Homo sapiens: one gene and its partner. The protein of the gene in region 2 interacts with the protein of the main gene of each other region in a biochemical or structural test. Each region holds a gene or a part of one and is shown on either strand. Other genes may lie near its edges. The genes, in order: ZER1 and ZNF701.

Region 1 (7,267 bases), on a different chromosome or scaffold from region 2:
AATTCAGTGAGCATGGCCACATATGCATGTACATGCCGGTGCCAGAATAACGGATCCATGATCAGGGAGTGAATCATCCAGAAAATCTGAATGGCCCTCCGAGGGCCTCCCCACTCCTAGGGGCTCCTAGAAGCATGCTATGCAGTCACTGAATGCTGGGAGTTCAATCTACAGGCCCAGATGGTGGCCAGGCATGGTGGCTCACACGTGTAATTCCAGCATTTTGGGAAGCCAAGACAGGAGGATCACTTGAGACCAGAAATTCAAGATCAGCCTGGGTGACATAGCGAGACCTTGTCTCTACCAAAAAAAAAAAAAGAAAAAGATTCCCAGAAGGGAAATTATTAGACAGCTGCATAGGAAACTAGAAGCCTGTGTGGGCCTGAGGACAGAGGTGGACCTGTAATAACGTCCTGAGCATTTACCGTGGGTCAGGCTTTAGGTTGGACACTTTGCAGGCCATAGTTATATCCACTTTACAGATGAAGAAACTGAGGTCTGGGAAAGTTCATTTACTTGTGTGAAGTTGCCCAGGTAGGAAGCAGCCAAGCCAAGATTTAGAGTCTAAAGCGTTTGAATCCAAAGCATTTCCCAGCAGACCAGGATTCTTGCATGAGCTGATGTCTCAACAGGGCTTCATTAAGGGCTTGTCCTGTACCCAGCTGGGAACTCTGAACTACTTGGCTTAGTTTGCCTGTTTAAAAGGGTCGCAGGAGGGGCTTAAAGAAGGTGACGAGAGTGGCCATGCCAGTGGGGCTGCTGCCCCTGCAGTGTGCGTGCGTGGAGGCTGTGTGACAGGCATGTGCACTGGGAGAGATGGCGCCTGCATCACCTAGAAGGTCTCCCAGAGAGCTGCCTTTAGATTCCTGGTTCCTGGGCACCCTTAATCTTACTGGTAGTTTAGTCAGGATCTGACCAGATACTCTTAGGAGAAGGAGGTTGCTACTTGGGGTGATCCAAGAAAGCTTCAGGGGGAGGAGGGCTTGGCTTTGAAGCGAGGATGAGAGTCCCTGTGGCCCTCTCCTGAGCCAGGCTTTTTTCTCTCCCAGGTATGTGGAGCTGGTGAACGCTGCCTGTAACTTCGAGCCACACGAGAGCTTCTTCAGCCTCTTTTCGGACCCCCGCAGCACCCGCCTCACGCGGATCCACCTCCGTGAGGACCTGGTGCAGGACCAGGACCTGGAGGCCATCCGCAAGCAGGTGAGACCTGCCCCGCCACAGCGCCAGGAGGGCCCACACCAAGCAGGGGCCAGGCTGCTCGCCTCCAGCCCAGCCATCCCCAGCCCAGCCAGTGTGCACCGTGACTGTGCACATCCCCCTTTCCAACCCACCTGTAGCCCAGGGCAAGGCCTGGGGCCGGGGGAAGGGGCAAGGGTGGTGATGATGATGGAGCTGTGCCCACTCCCAGGACCTGGTGGAGCTGTACCTGACTAACTGCGAGAAGCTGTCCGCCAAGAGCCTGCAGACACTGAGGAGCTTCAGCCACACCCTGGTGTCCTTGAGCCTCTTCGGCTGTACAAACATTTTCTATGAGGAGGAGAACCCAGGGGGCTGTGAAGATGAGTACCTCGTCAACCCCACCTGCCAGGTGCTGGTTAAGGATTTCACCTTCGAGGGCTTCAGCCGCCTCCGCTTCCTCAACTTGGGCCGCATGATTGATTGGGTCCCTGTGGAGTCCCTGCTGCGGCCGCTTAACTCCCTGGCTGCCTTGGACCTCTCAGGCATTCAGACGAGCGACGCCGCCTTCCTCACCCAGTGGAAAGACAGCCTGGTGTCCCTCGTCCTCTACAACATGGACCTGTCCGACGACCACATCCGGGTCATCGTGCAGCTGCACAAGCTGCGGTGAGCTCCTGGCCCAGAGCTCACCAGGGTGGGGTTTGGGGGGCAGGTGGGGAGGAGTAGAGGTGGGTGTTGTCACGCCCTCAGGGTTCAGGAGCGCTTGGCTAGGCAGAGGGTGGGGATGAAGACACAGTCCCATTCCTTAAACCCAGTGTTTCAGCTGGATTGGGGCTGTTTGGGGTTTCTTCCCAGAATGCCCTGGGGAAGTTGTGGCAGGAATGGGCCCTCCCCTGCTACAGACTAAAGGAGCTGGGATCTGCAAGGCAGCCCCACCCTGTACCCAGCTCCTAACCTGCACCCCCTACCCCAATCTTCAGACACCTGGACATCTCCCGAGACCGCCTCTCCAGCTACTACAAGTTCAAGCTGACTCGGGAGGTGCTGAGCCTCTTTGTGCAGAAGCTGGGGAACCTAATGTCCCTGGACATCTCTGGCCACATGATCCTAGAGAACTGCAGCATCTCCAAGATGGAAGAGGAAGCGGGGCAGACCAGGTGGGGCCCCAGCCTCCATGGCTACTGGTAGGGTGTCATTCAACAGGCATTTAGGCTGGCGCAGTGGCTCACGCCTGTAATCCCAGCACTTTGGGAAGCCAAGATGGGCGGATCACTTGAGGCCAGGAGTTAGAGACCAGCCTGGCCAACATGGTGAAACCCCATTTCTACTAAAAATACAAAATTTAGCTGGACATGGTGGCAGACACCTGTAGTCCCAGCTACTTGGGAGGCTAAGGTATGAGAATTGAAGCCGGGAGGCGGAGCCTGCAGTGAGCTGAGATCGCGCCACTGCACTCCAGCCTAGGCAACAAAGTGGGACTTTGTCTCAAAAAAAAAAAAAAAGAAAGTATTTGCCAAGTACCCCTCTGCCAAGTGCTGTGCTGGGTGCTAGAGATAAAGAAACAAATCAGGTCCTGCCCTCTTGGAGGCTGTGTGAGCTGGTGGGGACAATCAAGTCATTACAAGGGCTATGGTAGGGGCAATCCAGGGCCCCGGTGTGGCCTGAGGATCAGGAAGGAAGGAGGAGGAGGGACGCATCCTGGCTGTCCTGAAAGCTCATTCTGCCTCTGCCAGAGGAAGCGTGTTCTAGCAGAGGGAACAGCACCTGCAAAGGCCAGTAGGTGAGAGCATGAGGAGCGACAGGGGAACTACCCAACACTCAGCCTGACCAGAGCACAGTGCCATGGGGGGAAGAGGCAAGGCTGGCAGTGTCTGCCACCTATGGAGTATTGCTGGACATAGGTCGGTTCTTGGATTGGTTGGTTGAGAAGTTTGACCAAACCCTACCAGCTGTAACTGGCCACCCATAAGCCCTGGCCCCAGCCTGCTTTAATGGTGTTCAGTTGAGCTTGTCCCTTTGTGATTGTTGGTGAGACCTAAAGGTGCCATGTCCTTACTAGAATGGCAGGTGGTTTCTAAAGGTGGCTGCATTGCCCATCCTATGTGTTCCCCTACTATGTGGCTTTGCCATGCTTCCATCAGGAGGTGGTGCTTATGTCCCCTACCATTAAAAACAAAAGGAGTAGGGGATGAGGTTGGAGGGCCTAGAAGAGAAAGCAAGGAAATGCCTCACCACCCCCAGTGGGGAGGCCCAGCTCAGGCCTGGGTCCCAAGCCACTGACACCGGCACCCTCTTTCCCCAGCATTGAGCCTTCCAAGAGCAGCATCATACCTTTCCGGGCTCTGAAGAGGCCGCTGCAGTTCCTCGGGCTCTTTGAGAACTCTCTGTGCCGCCTCACGCACATTCCAGCCTACAAAGTGAGCAGTGGAAGTGGGATGGGTCTGGGCCAGGGAGCCTTGGGAGAGAGAAGGAGCTGGATTCTGGGGCTGGAGACTGAGCTGGGATCTGGCATCCCAGCCCTTGGCCTCTGCTGGGTTGTTCTGAGCGTGTCCCACCCGCAGGTAAGTGGTGACAAAAACGAAGAGCAGGTGCTGAATGCCATCGAGGCCTACACGGAGCACCGGCCTGAGATCACCTCGCGGGCCATCAACTTGCTTTTTGACATCGCCCGCATCGAGCGTTGCAACCAGCTGCTGCGGGCCCTGAAGGTCAGCTCCAAGCCTGGGGCCTTGGCCTCCTGTCCCTCCCCACCTGGAGGTTGCCGGGCTTGGCTGAGCCGTGTCCCCAGAGCCTGTGTCCTTCTGCACCCTGTCCCCAGGGCCCCAGGACCCGAACCCCAGCCTGGGCCTCACAGCACTTGACTTGCTTCAGCACTGGCCTTGTTTGGTCCCCACCCTGGTGTCTGCTCCCCAGGCCCCACTTCTGCCTTTAGAGAGCAAGACCAGGCTAAACCTTGCCCCAGAGAGCCTGTTCCAGCCCCTTGCAGAGCCCAGGCCTCTCCCTGCACTTGCCAGCCCAGGTCCCCCTTGTCTTCATACAGCTGGTCATCACGGCCCTCAAGTGCCACAAATATGACAGGAACATTCAAGTGACAGGCAGCGCCGCTCTCTTCTACCTAACAAATTCCGAGTACCGCTCAGAGCAGAGTGTGAAGCTGCGCCGGCAGGTTATCCAGGTGGTGCTGAATGGCATGGAATCCTACCAGGAGGTGACGGTGAGCCCCCACCCGCCACGGCCCCGCATGCTCTGGCCCAGCCACCCCTTTCCTGCTTCTTGCGTCCCGCTAGGGCTCCCCCGGCTCTGGGCTGCATCTGTCCCAGCTCCCTTTCCCACAGCAGCACTCCCTGACTCTTGGGACCTGGCCCTTCCCACAGTCCATCACTCCTGGCTGCCCTCCATCCTCCTCCCTGCCCCATGTGGGGGTGGGGGCCCAGGGACCCTGCCCTTCTCCCTGCCTGTGCCGTCTCCTCAGCCCTTCTGCCCATACACTCTGCTGGGGGATTTCTTACCAACAGCTGCTTTTAATATAAAAGTAATAAAAGCCTTTATTATAGAAAAGTTATAATTACAGATATACAGAAAATAAAAATCACCCATAAACCCACTACCCAGAGACAGGCACCATTAACATGGGATATCAATTGTGAATTTTAGCCTATGCACACATATTTTGTAAATGGGATACACAAACTGCATACTGTTTGTATATGGTGGATTTTTACTTCAACTGTGTTGTCACATGAATATGAACATCTCCCTTATCCGCCAACAATTTTTTTCTTTTTTGAGATGGAGTTTCACTCTTATTGCCCAGGCTGGAGTGCAATGGCACAATCTCGGGTCACTGCAACTTCCACCTCCCGGGTTCAAGTGATTCTCCTGTCTCAGCCTCCCGAGTAGCTGGGATTACAGGCATGCGCCACCATGCCCGGCTAATTTTGTATTTTTAGTAAAGATGGGATTTTACCATATTGGTCAGGCTGGTCTCGAACTCCTGACCTCAGGTGATCCACCTGCCTCAGCCTCCCAAAGTGCTGGGATTACAGATGTGAGCCACTGCGCCTGGCCAGCCAACAAATTTTTTTTTCAGATGGAGTCTTGCTCTGTTGCCCAAGCTGGAGAGCAGTGGCGGGTTCAAGTGATTCTCCTGCCTCAGCCTCCCAAGTAGCTGGGACTACAGGTGCATGCCACCACACCTGCCTAATTTATGTATTTTTAGTAGAGACGGGGTTTTGCCATGTTGGTCAGTCTGGTGTTGAACTCCTGACCTCAGGTGATCCACCTGCCTCAGCCTCCCAAAGTGCTGGGATTACAAGCATGTGCCACCACACCCAGCCAACATATTTATATAACAAAAACTTTTTTTCATTTCAGATGGGCAATATGCCAACGTCCTAACATGGTTTGAGGGAGGCACATTTCACACATGAGCATGAAGACCTAATCATCACTCTTATAAACTACGAAAGGATCAAACAATAATTTTTATTTATTTATTTTTTCGAGATGGAGTCTTACTCTGTCGCCCAGGCTGGAGTGCAGTGCACAATCTTGGCTCACTGCAATCTCTGCCTCCTGAGTTCAAGTGATCCTCCTGCCTCAGCCCCCCTAGTGGCTGGGACTACAGGCACGTGCCACCATGCCAGGCTAATATTTGTATTTTTAGTAGAGACAGGGTTTCGCCATGTTGGCCAGGCTGGTCTCGAACTCCTGAGCTCAGGTGATCCACCTGCCTCGGCCTCCCAAAGTGCTGGGATTACAGGCGTGAGCCACCGTGCTCAGCCACAATATATATATATATATTTTAATTAAGACAGGGTCTCAGGCTGGGCGTGGTGGCTCACGCCTGTAATCCCAGCACTTTGGGAGGCTGAGGCAGGCAGATCATGAGGTCAGGAGTTTGAGACCAGCCTGGCCAACATGGCGAAACCCCATCTCTACTAAAAAATACAAAAATTAGCTGGCCACGGTGGCTCACACCTGTAATCCCAGCACTTTGGGAGGCTGAGGCAGGCGGATCACCTGAAGTCAGGAGTTCGAGACCAGCCTGGCCAACGTGGTGAAACCCTGTCTCTACTAAAAATACACAAATTAGCTGGGCATGGTGGCAGGCGCCTGTAGTCCCAGCTACCTGGGAGGCTGAGGCAGGAGAATTGCTGGAACCCAGGAGGTAGAGGTTGCAGTGAGCTGAGATCAAGCCACCGAACTCCAGCCTGGGTGACAGAGGGAGACTCTGTCACAAAGAAAAACAAAAACAAATACACAGGGTCTCACTTTGTTGCCAAGGCTGGAGTATAGCGGCATGATCACAGCTCACTGTGGCCTCCACCTCTCAGGCTCAAGCAAGCCTCCCAACTCAGCCTCCCCAGTAGCTGGGACAACAAGGCATGTACCACCACACCCAACTAATTTTTTTTTTTTTTTTTTTGAGACAGAGTCTCGCTCTGTCACCCAGGCTGGAGTTAAGTGGCACGATCTCGGCTCACTGCAAGCTCCACCTCCCAGGTTCACGCTATTCTGCCTCAGCCTCCCGAGTAGCTGGGACTACAGGCGCCCGCCACCCTGCCACGCTAAGTTTTTGTATTTTTAGTGGAGACGGGGTTTCACTGTGTTAGCCAGGATGGTCTCAATCTCCTGACCTCATGATCCGCCTGCGTCGGCCTCCCAAAGTGCTGGGATTATAGGCATGAGCCACCATGCCCGGCCCACAGTCAGCTAATTTGTATTTGTGTGTGTCTGTGTGTATGTGGTGACGGGGTCTCGCTGTGTTGCCCTTGCTATCCCCTAGCTCAAGTGATCCTCCTGCCTTGGTTTCCCAAAGTGCTGGGATTATAAGCATGAGCCATTGCACTAGGCCCAAAAATTGTTTAATAATGTTTCTTTTCTGATTACAAAAGATATCTAATGCTTAAGCCAGGTGTGGTGGCCCTCACCTGTAATCTCAGCACTTTGGAGGGCCGAGGAAGGCAGATCACTTAAGATCAGGAGTTCCAGACCAGCCTGGCCAACATGGTGAAACCCTATCTCTACTAAAACTACAAAAATTAGCCGGGCATACTGGCGGGTGCCTGTAGTCCCAGCTACTCCA
Region 2 (7,788 bases):
GAAACCCCATATCTACTAAAAATACAAAAAGTAGCTGGGCTTGGTGGGCATTGGTAAGCCCAGCTACTCGGGAGGCTGAGGTTGGAGGATCGCTTGAACCTGGAAGGTGGAGGTTGCAGTGAGCCAAGATCGCACCACTGGACTCCAGCCAGGGCAACAGAGTAAGACTCAAAAATAAAATAAAATACAAATACAAAAATTAGCAGAGTATGGTGGCACACACCTGTAATCTCAGCTACTTGGGAGACTAAGGCACAAGAATTGCTTGAACTCAGGAGACAAAGGTTGCAGTGAGCCAAGATCACAAGACTGCACTCACAGCCTGGAGGACAGAGCGAGACTCTTTGGAAAAAGAAAAAAAGTGTGTTTCTGATGTGACTGACACAGAGATAATAAAACCTGAGTAATGTGATAGAGACTGATGGGCAGAGGGAAATTCAGTTGGGGGTGGGAGGGCATGGGAGACATTTCTGAGCCAGGACCTGAAGGAGAAAGGGACAGTGCTGTGAGCATTTAGAGAAATAGGGTAAGAGCAGTGAAAATGACCTGAGACGGGAAGGGTTTTGATGTTTGGGAAAAGAGAAAAGCAAATGTGACTGGGGCAGAGGGAGTCATGAGATGAGGGCAAGTTCCCAGGAGGAGCCTGGACAGTGGCAGGGGCCCTGGACACAGGGCTGTGGAGTGACAGTGAGGAGTTGGGCTTTTGTCCTGGGGAACACAGGAAGCCCATGGAGGGTTCCCTGCCAGGGACTGACATGATCTGCTTTAGATTTAGCTGTGACATCCTCAGAACGGGGACATTTTCACCGAGTCACGCTGAGAAGGTCTGAGATGAGTGAAAAGATGTAACGGAATTCTTACATGGTGGCCTGGAAGGGATAAAGGAAAGGGTTGGCCTTATCAAAACTATCCTTGAAAATTAGAGAAGCCTCTTTCACATACCTGGGATAAAGAAACTTCCTTTGCAAGTTCTGATGCCACTGATTCCCAACATTTAATTCTTCCTCACAAGAAAATTACAGTAACATTTATAAAATGCAGATGTACAAAGACACAGCTAGTTACCTTCAAAACAGGGAGGCTGAGTGCGGTGGCTCACACCTGTAATCCCAGCACTTTGGGAGGCCGAGGCAGGCGGATCACCTGATGTCGGGAGTTCGAGACCATCCTGACCAACATGGAGAAACCCCATCTCTACTAAAAATACAAAAATTATCTAGATGTTGTGGCACTTGCCTGTAATTCCAGCTACTCAGGAAGGCCGAGGCAGGACAATCGCTTAAAACCGGGAGGTAAAGGTGGTGGTGAGTAGGCCGGGCTCGGTGGCTCATGCCTATAATCCCAGCACTTTGGGAAGCCGAGGTGGGCAGATCACCTGAGGTCAGGAGTTCAAGACCAACCTGACCAATATGGAGAAACCCCATCTCTACTAAAAATACAAAATTAGCCTGGTGTGGTGGCACATGCCTGTAATCCCAGCTACTAGGGAGGCTGAGGCAGGAGACTCGCTTGAACTCGGGAGGTGGAGGTTGCAGTGAGCCGAGATCGCACCATTGCACTCCAGCACGGGCAACAAGAGCGAAACTCCGTCTCAAAAAAAAAACCAAAAAGGGTTGCGGTGACCCAAGATCACACCATTGCACTCCAGCCTGGGCAACAAGAGCGAAAGTGCATCTCAAAACAAACAAGCAAACAAACAAACAAAAAGCAGGGAAAGAGGGTCAGCTGTAGAACTAAGACATAAGCAAACTTTTTCAATCAAGAATGCTTGGGTGGCCAGGTGCGGTGGCTCACGCCTGTAATTCCAACACTTTGGGAGGTCGAGGCGGGTGGATCACCTGAGGTCAGGAGTTCGAGACCAGCCTGGCCAACATGGTGAAACCCCGTCTCTACTAAAAATACAAAAATTACCTGGGCTCCATCCTCACGTCTTATTTAATCTCTTGTTGCTCCTTCTCCCCAATTCTTCGATCGTCCTCAATCTCCATATATTTCCGCCTCTTATCCCATCTCTGCATCTCTGCCGCTCTCCCTGTTAAATTCTCTCTTCTCTGTTTTACCCCCCGTCCCCACTCTCTAGCACCCCAGATCCCCAGGCGTCCTCCCTGCTGTGGTTCTCCCTCTGTTCTCCTTGCCACCAGCACCACTCTGCTCTGTCTGCCCTGGCTCCAAATTCCTCCTCTCTCTCTCTCTCTCTCTCACTCTGATGAGCCTCCCTCTTTGCTGCCCCTCTCTACCTTGCTGTCTGTCCTTCATCTCTCTGTACATCTAGCTTTTCTCTACATTTCTCCAGTTGCTTTTCTCCTCCTGCTTTCTTATCTTTTTTTTTTCACTTTTGCTGTCTCTTGGCAAATCCCTCACCCATCCTCTACTTTGCCATCTGTTATGGGTCTTTCTCATTCTTCTTTTCTCTGTCTCAGGTTTTCTACTACTCTCTGTCTCCTGATCTCTTTAGCCCACACAATCACAGGAGGGTTTGAAGTAAGACGCCTGCATCCCAGAGAGGCTCATTTTTCAGGGGTTGGAGCTAGGCAGGCAAGAACACACCGTGTCACAGGACTGGCCCCTGGCACCTCCCCAACGCTGGCTCAAGGAAAGTGGTGACTGCTAAGGGGAGACTTGGGGTGCAGCAAGGCCCAGCATGAGGCGGGAGGTGGGGTGCGACGACGCCTTCGGTGGGGTCCACAAGATCCCAGCACCAGGCAGAGAACTCGGCCTCCCTGAGACTGGGATCGCGACGTTTGCGCTTCAGGCGCCTAAAGGTTGAGACTGGGAGGCGCCCAGGCGGAAATACACATCTCGGGTGAGGACTTTGAAAAGCGCGGGGAGGGAGGAGTTAAAAAACGGTTTTGAGCACAGAAACTACGCGATAGGAAGTGTATACAGCGCCCTGTAGCAGAAAGACTGGAGACGGGAACAGCCTCAGGGCGACTTTAAACACAAAAGGAAGCGACTTCCGGATTCCCAGGGGAACGTCTGCATTTGCTCTGGTTGAAGGAAGATGGGCGAGAATTTACAGGTCTGTGGTGACCCCACGTCCCAGGTACGGAAGTGCCGGGGATATGGGGAGTGCAGACTTAATACAACACAGAGCAAAACTCACCGCCGCGGTGCGACCTTCACTCCACGGGATCCGCTTCCTGGTCTGCGCGGATGTGTGCGCACAGGACTAAAGCCAGGCCTGGGTGGAGCCAACGAGAAGGTGGGCGGGGCCTGATCGAGGTAGAGGCGGGGCCCCAGGCGGAGAGACCTTGCCCTTTAGAACCGGCAGAGGGCGGGGCCGGGGCGGGACCTGTGCGTCTCTCAGCCTCGCTCCCAGCGACTCTATTTTTCGGGCTTTGGAGGCGAGAGCGGTCAGGAAGGCTGAAGCACGATTCGAAAGCCCTGGAATTGTCTGGAACGGGGATGCAAACAAGAATGTAAAATGCAAAGCCCTGCCTGGGCGGAACGTACAATTTCATGCTGACGGCCCACAGAACAGAACAGAAATCCTCTCCCTTTCTATTCTCCATTCACTCAGGAGGGAGAGTCCACCCTGTGCTCAGCTTCAGAGACTTCCCTAGGGCCTCCGCCTGGGATGCGCGACGGAGTGTTCAGGCCAGGGAGGAGTGAAGTCACCACCTACTGCTTAAACATAGCAGGAATGCGGCCAGGTGGGCGGGAGCCTGAGGGCCAGAGGCGGGAGGATCACTGAGCCTGGGGGTCCAGGCCAGCCTGGGCGACAAAGTAACACACCCTCCCGCAGGGCTCCCCTCATCGTCTCTTTTAATTTTTAAAATAAAATTTTGATTGTGTGAGATAGGGATACAACATTATTCTTTTCCATGTGGATATCCAGTTAATTGTCCCAGCACATTTGTGGAAGAGATCTATTACTTTCTTTTTTTTCTTTTCTTTTTTTTTTTAAGACGGAGTATTTCTCTGTCGCTCAGGCTGGAGTGCAGTGGTGACATCTCGGCTCACTGCAGCCTCTGCCTCCTGGGTTGAAGCGATTCTCCTGCCTCAGCCTCCGGAATAGCTGGCATTACAGGCACAGGCCACCATGCCCGGCTAATTTTTGTATTTTGGGTAGAGACGGGGTTTCACCATGTTGGCCAGGCTGGTCTCGAACTCCTGACTTCAAGTGATCCGCCTGCCTCGGCCTCCTGAAATGCTGGGATTACAGGCGTGAACCACTGTGCCTGGCCCAAGAAATACTCTTCACTTCGCTCTTAAATGTTGAGAAAATACAATTGAAAACTAAAAAAATCTTCCCCTAAATGAGAAATCATCTTCACGACGATAACAGAGAAAGAAATAAAAACTATTTTATTAATAAATAGGCCTTAGACCAGCATGTGATGGGAAATAGAGGACAGTTGAGAGGTTGAAAAGAGAGAAAGAAACTTCACTGTTCTATACAACCCAAATACATGTTTTCAAGATAAACACTGATCAGTCCTCAGGGAAGAGGACTTGACAACACCCTTGGTCACACATAATTCATCCTGGCTCTACTTGGTAATGGAGGTGACCATCTGTGTCAGCTAACTAGCATCATCCTGAGGGAGGGGGAGAAACCCTAACCCATGTATTTTTGGCAAGTGTGAGTTTTACAGCATGGCGGACAGGTGCCCTCTCTGGTGAGGCTCCTACAATCCAACAGAAACTGATGTCAGCAGTAAATAATGAAATTTAGAATACATTATTAATTATAGAGTTTATTTGGACACAAAGCATGAGAATAGCCACCTGGAAACCTCAACTCCAAATGAATGGGGTCAGCGTTCCCAAGTAGAGACATTAACATTTCACACACACAAGGAAATACAGAGAAGCTTTCCCAGAACCACCACATTTTCCATTCAAGTCCAGTGCATAGGCTGCGGCAGCTTGACTGGTGATGGAGTGATACACTTCAAGGAAGGTTACATTATCACTCCATAAGAAGGGACAATGATGCCAGGAGGTCTTATCTCTGGGGCTGCTTAGTTTTCCTAATTATTTACACGAAAACTTTTTAAAATTGATATTAGGAAACTAAATTGTATAGCACATTTTGTTTTGTTTTGTTTTGTTTTGGGAAGGCGTCCTGCTCTGTCGCCCAGGCTGGAATGCAGTGATGTGATCTCGGCTCACTACGACCTCCACGTCCTGGGTTCAAGCAGTTCTCCTGCCTCAGCCTCCCAAATAGCTGAAAATACAGGCGTGCGCCACCATGCCCGGCTAATGGCTTTGTATTTTCAGTAGAGACGGGGTTTCCCCATGTTGGCCAGGCTGGTTTCTAATTCCTGACGTCAGGCGATCCGCCCGCCTCAGCCTCCCAGAGTGCTGGGATTACAGGCCTGAGCCTGCATGCCTGGCCAGGAAAACTTGTAGAAGTTGCGCCTGCATGCCACCGGACTCAGGTTGCATGACCACGTTCCTCTCAAGGTTCCGAATTATTTAAAAGTCTGTAGCTTTAAATTTGAAATAGCTGATGTTTGAAATATTTAATTTCCTACTGACTTACAGGTACTATCTCCCTTGTTGCTTGCCTTTCAAGAAGAGATTCTAAGTCCTTCAGAAGTACATCTCTGGGTTATTATGCTGAAAAAAGGTTTAATTACTTTCTAAAATATTCTACTTCAGGCCGGGCGCGGTGGCTCAAGCCTGTAATCCCAGCCCTTTGGTAGGCTGAGGACGGCGGATGGCCTGAGGTCGGGAGTTCGAGACCAGCCTGACCAATATAGAGAAACCCCGTCTCTACTACAAATATAAAAATTAGCCTGGAGTGGTGGCATGAGCCTGTAGTCCCAGCTACTCCGGAGGCTGAGGCAGGAGAATCGCTTGAGCCCAGAAAATGGAAGCTGTGGTGAGCCATGATCATGACATTGTACTCCAGCCCAGGGAACTAGAGTGAAACTCAGTCTCAAAAACAAAATAATAATAATAATAATAATAATAATAATAATAATAATAATAATAAAAAATACAGCTGGACAAGGTGTCTCAAGCCTGAGCGAGACTCCGTCTTAAAAAAAAAAAGAAAAAAAAAAGAAAACTACCAGTTACACAGTAGGGCGACCTCAAAAACAAAGGGAACTGCCTTCTCTTAAAGTTTCTCTTACATAGGTGCTTAGGTAAAAACTAAGGTATGTCTACCTGCCAGTGGGCTGACAGTGTAACAAAACTTATTACTTTGTTGATTTAAAGCTATCCTTGGCCGGTTGCATTGGCTCCCGCCTGTAATTCTGGCACTTTGGAAGGCCGACGTGGGGGCATCACCTGAGATCAGGGGTTCGAGACCAGCCTTGCGAACGTGATGAAACCCCGTCTCTACTGAAAATTCAACGATTAGCCGGGGGTGGTGGTGCATGCCTGTAATCCTAGCTACTCAGGAGGCTGAGGCAGGAGAATCGCTTGAACCCGGAAGGTGGAAGTTGCAATGAGCCGAGATTGTCCTATTGCACTCCAGCCTGGATGACAAAAGTGAAGCTCCATCAAAAAAAAAAAAACACCTATCCTTGGTATTTTAGTGTGCAAGTACGTGAAAGCATGACTGTAATTAGCTTAGAAGCATACATTGTCATGGGATATTGGGTCATCTGGACATTGTGTTTATGTAGGAGTTTGTCCTTGCAGGTATGATTAAGCTGCTTTTCTTAACTGTAAACATCTTAAGACCATGAGTCATGCGTGAGCAGTAAGGAATGTATGTTGCTAGTTTTAATGGACTTGAACTTTGTCACCCTAGCTCCCCTAGGATCCTGTTTAACAGTTTATCCACTTATGCACCAGAGTCCTAAGCACAATTATGGAGACACCATCCTTTTGTAATGTATCTGACAGACTGAGCTTCTGCCCCAAGAACATAGTAATAGCAATACTAAGTGAAATATTATAAAGTTTTGTGTATCTATGTAATTATCTATTATTTGCGTTTTAAATTAGCTAAAGTTATATAGAATGGGTTTTTATTTCAATCTAATACTAGAAATATATCTTTTGGCCCAGCATAGTGGCGCATACCTGTAATCTCAGCACTTTGGGAGGCTGAGGCAGGTGGATCACCTGAGGTCAGGAATTCAAGACCAGCCTGACTAACATAATGAAACCCAGTCTCTACTAAATACAAAAGAATTAGCCGGGCATGGTGATGCATGCCTGTAATCTGAGCTACTTGGGGTGCTGAGACAGGAGAATCCGTAGTACCTGGGAGGCAGAGGTTTCAGTGATCCGAGATCGCACCATTGCACTCCAGCCTGGGCAACAAGATTGAAACTCCGTCTCAAAAAACAAAACAAAACAAACTATATATATATATATAAAATCTTTCACAAATGGACTCTAATCCCACAAAGTTGTAAAGCATTTCCCTATGGTGAATAAATATGAAGGAGTTGAGATTTTGGAACTGATTTGTGCTTTCCATTATACTCATTTTTTCCTTATTCTATCTTGATCTTTTCTGTGTTCATGAGCTTGTGATCCAAAAGTATCTACTAGGTCTCAATGAATTTAGAAATCTATTTTGCCAAGGTTAAAATGCACCCATGACACAGCCTCAGGAGGTCCTGATGACGTGTGCCCAAGATGTTCAGGCTGCAATTTACAAATTTAGGGTGACATGAGACATCAATCAATACATATAAGATACACCTTGGTTCGATCTGGGAAGGTGAAATAACTGGAATTGCGGGCTTCCAGGTCACAGGGAGATAACAAATGATCACATTGTTTGAGTCTTTGATCAACCTTTCATTGAATACACAATTTATATGTGAGAGAGGGTGGAGGAATAGTCACTTATGCCTTAGGCTGGCTCAG

The links.
Region 1: the proteins of ZNF701 (region 2) and ZER1 are reported together in a solved structure, tested with the Homo sapiens proteins (2 studies listed by BioGRID, with this or other methods).

Annotation. Positions count from the first base shown.
Region 1 is NC_000009.12:128,747,742-128,755,008, reverse strand, and holds part of ZER1 (protein zer-1 homolog), read left to right. Parts: intron 1-1,049; coding exon 1,050-1,200; intron 1,201-1,408; coding exon 1,409-1,845; intron 1,846-2,159; coding exon 2,160-2,336; intron 2,337-3,481; coding exon 3,482-3,596; intron 3,597-3,740; coding exon 3,741-3,887; intron 3,888-4,219; coding exon 4,220-4,393; intron 4,394-5,547; exon of another isoform or gene 5,548-5,651; intron 5,652-7,267. UniProt on the Homo sapiens protein: Serves as substrate adapter subunit in the E3 ubiquitin ligase complex ZYG11B-CUL2-Elongin BC. Acts to target substrates bearing N-terminal degrons for proteasomal degradation with the first four residues of substrates being the key recognition elements.
Region 2 is NC_000019.10:52,565,646-52,573,433, reverse strand, and holds the start of ZNF701 (zinc finger protein 701), read right to left. Parts: upstream 3,148-7,788; 5' UTR 3,104-3,147; intron 2,771-3,103; exon of another isoform or gene 2,548-2,770; intron 1,198-2,547; exon of another isoform or gene 1,193-1,197; coding exon of another isoform or gene 1,066-1,192; intron 870-1,065; exon of another isoform or gene 756-869; intron 742-755; exon of another isoform or gene 224-741; intron 1-223. UniProt on the Homo sapiens protein: May be involved in transcriptional regulation.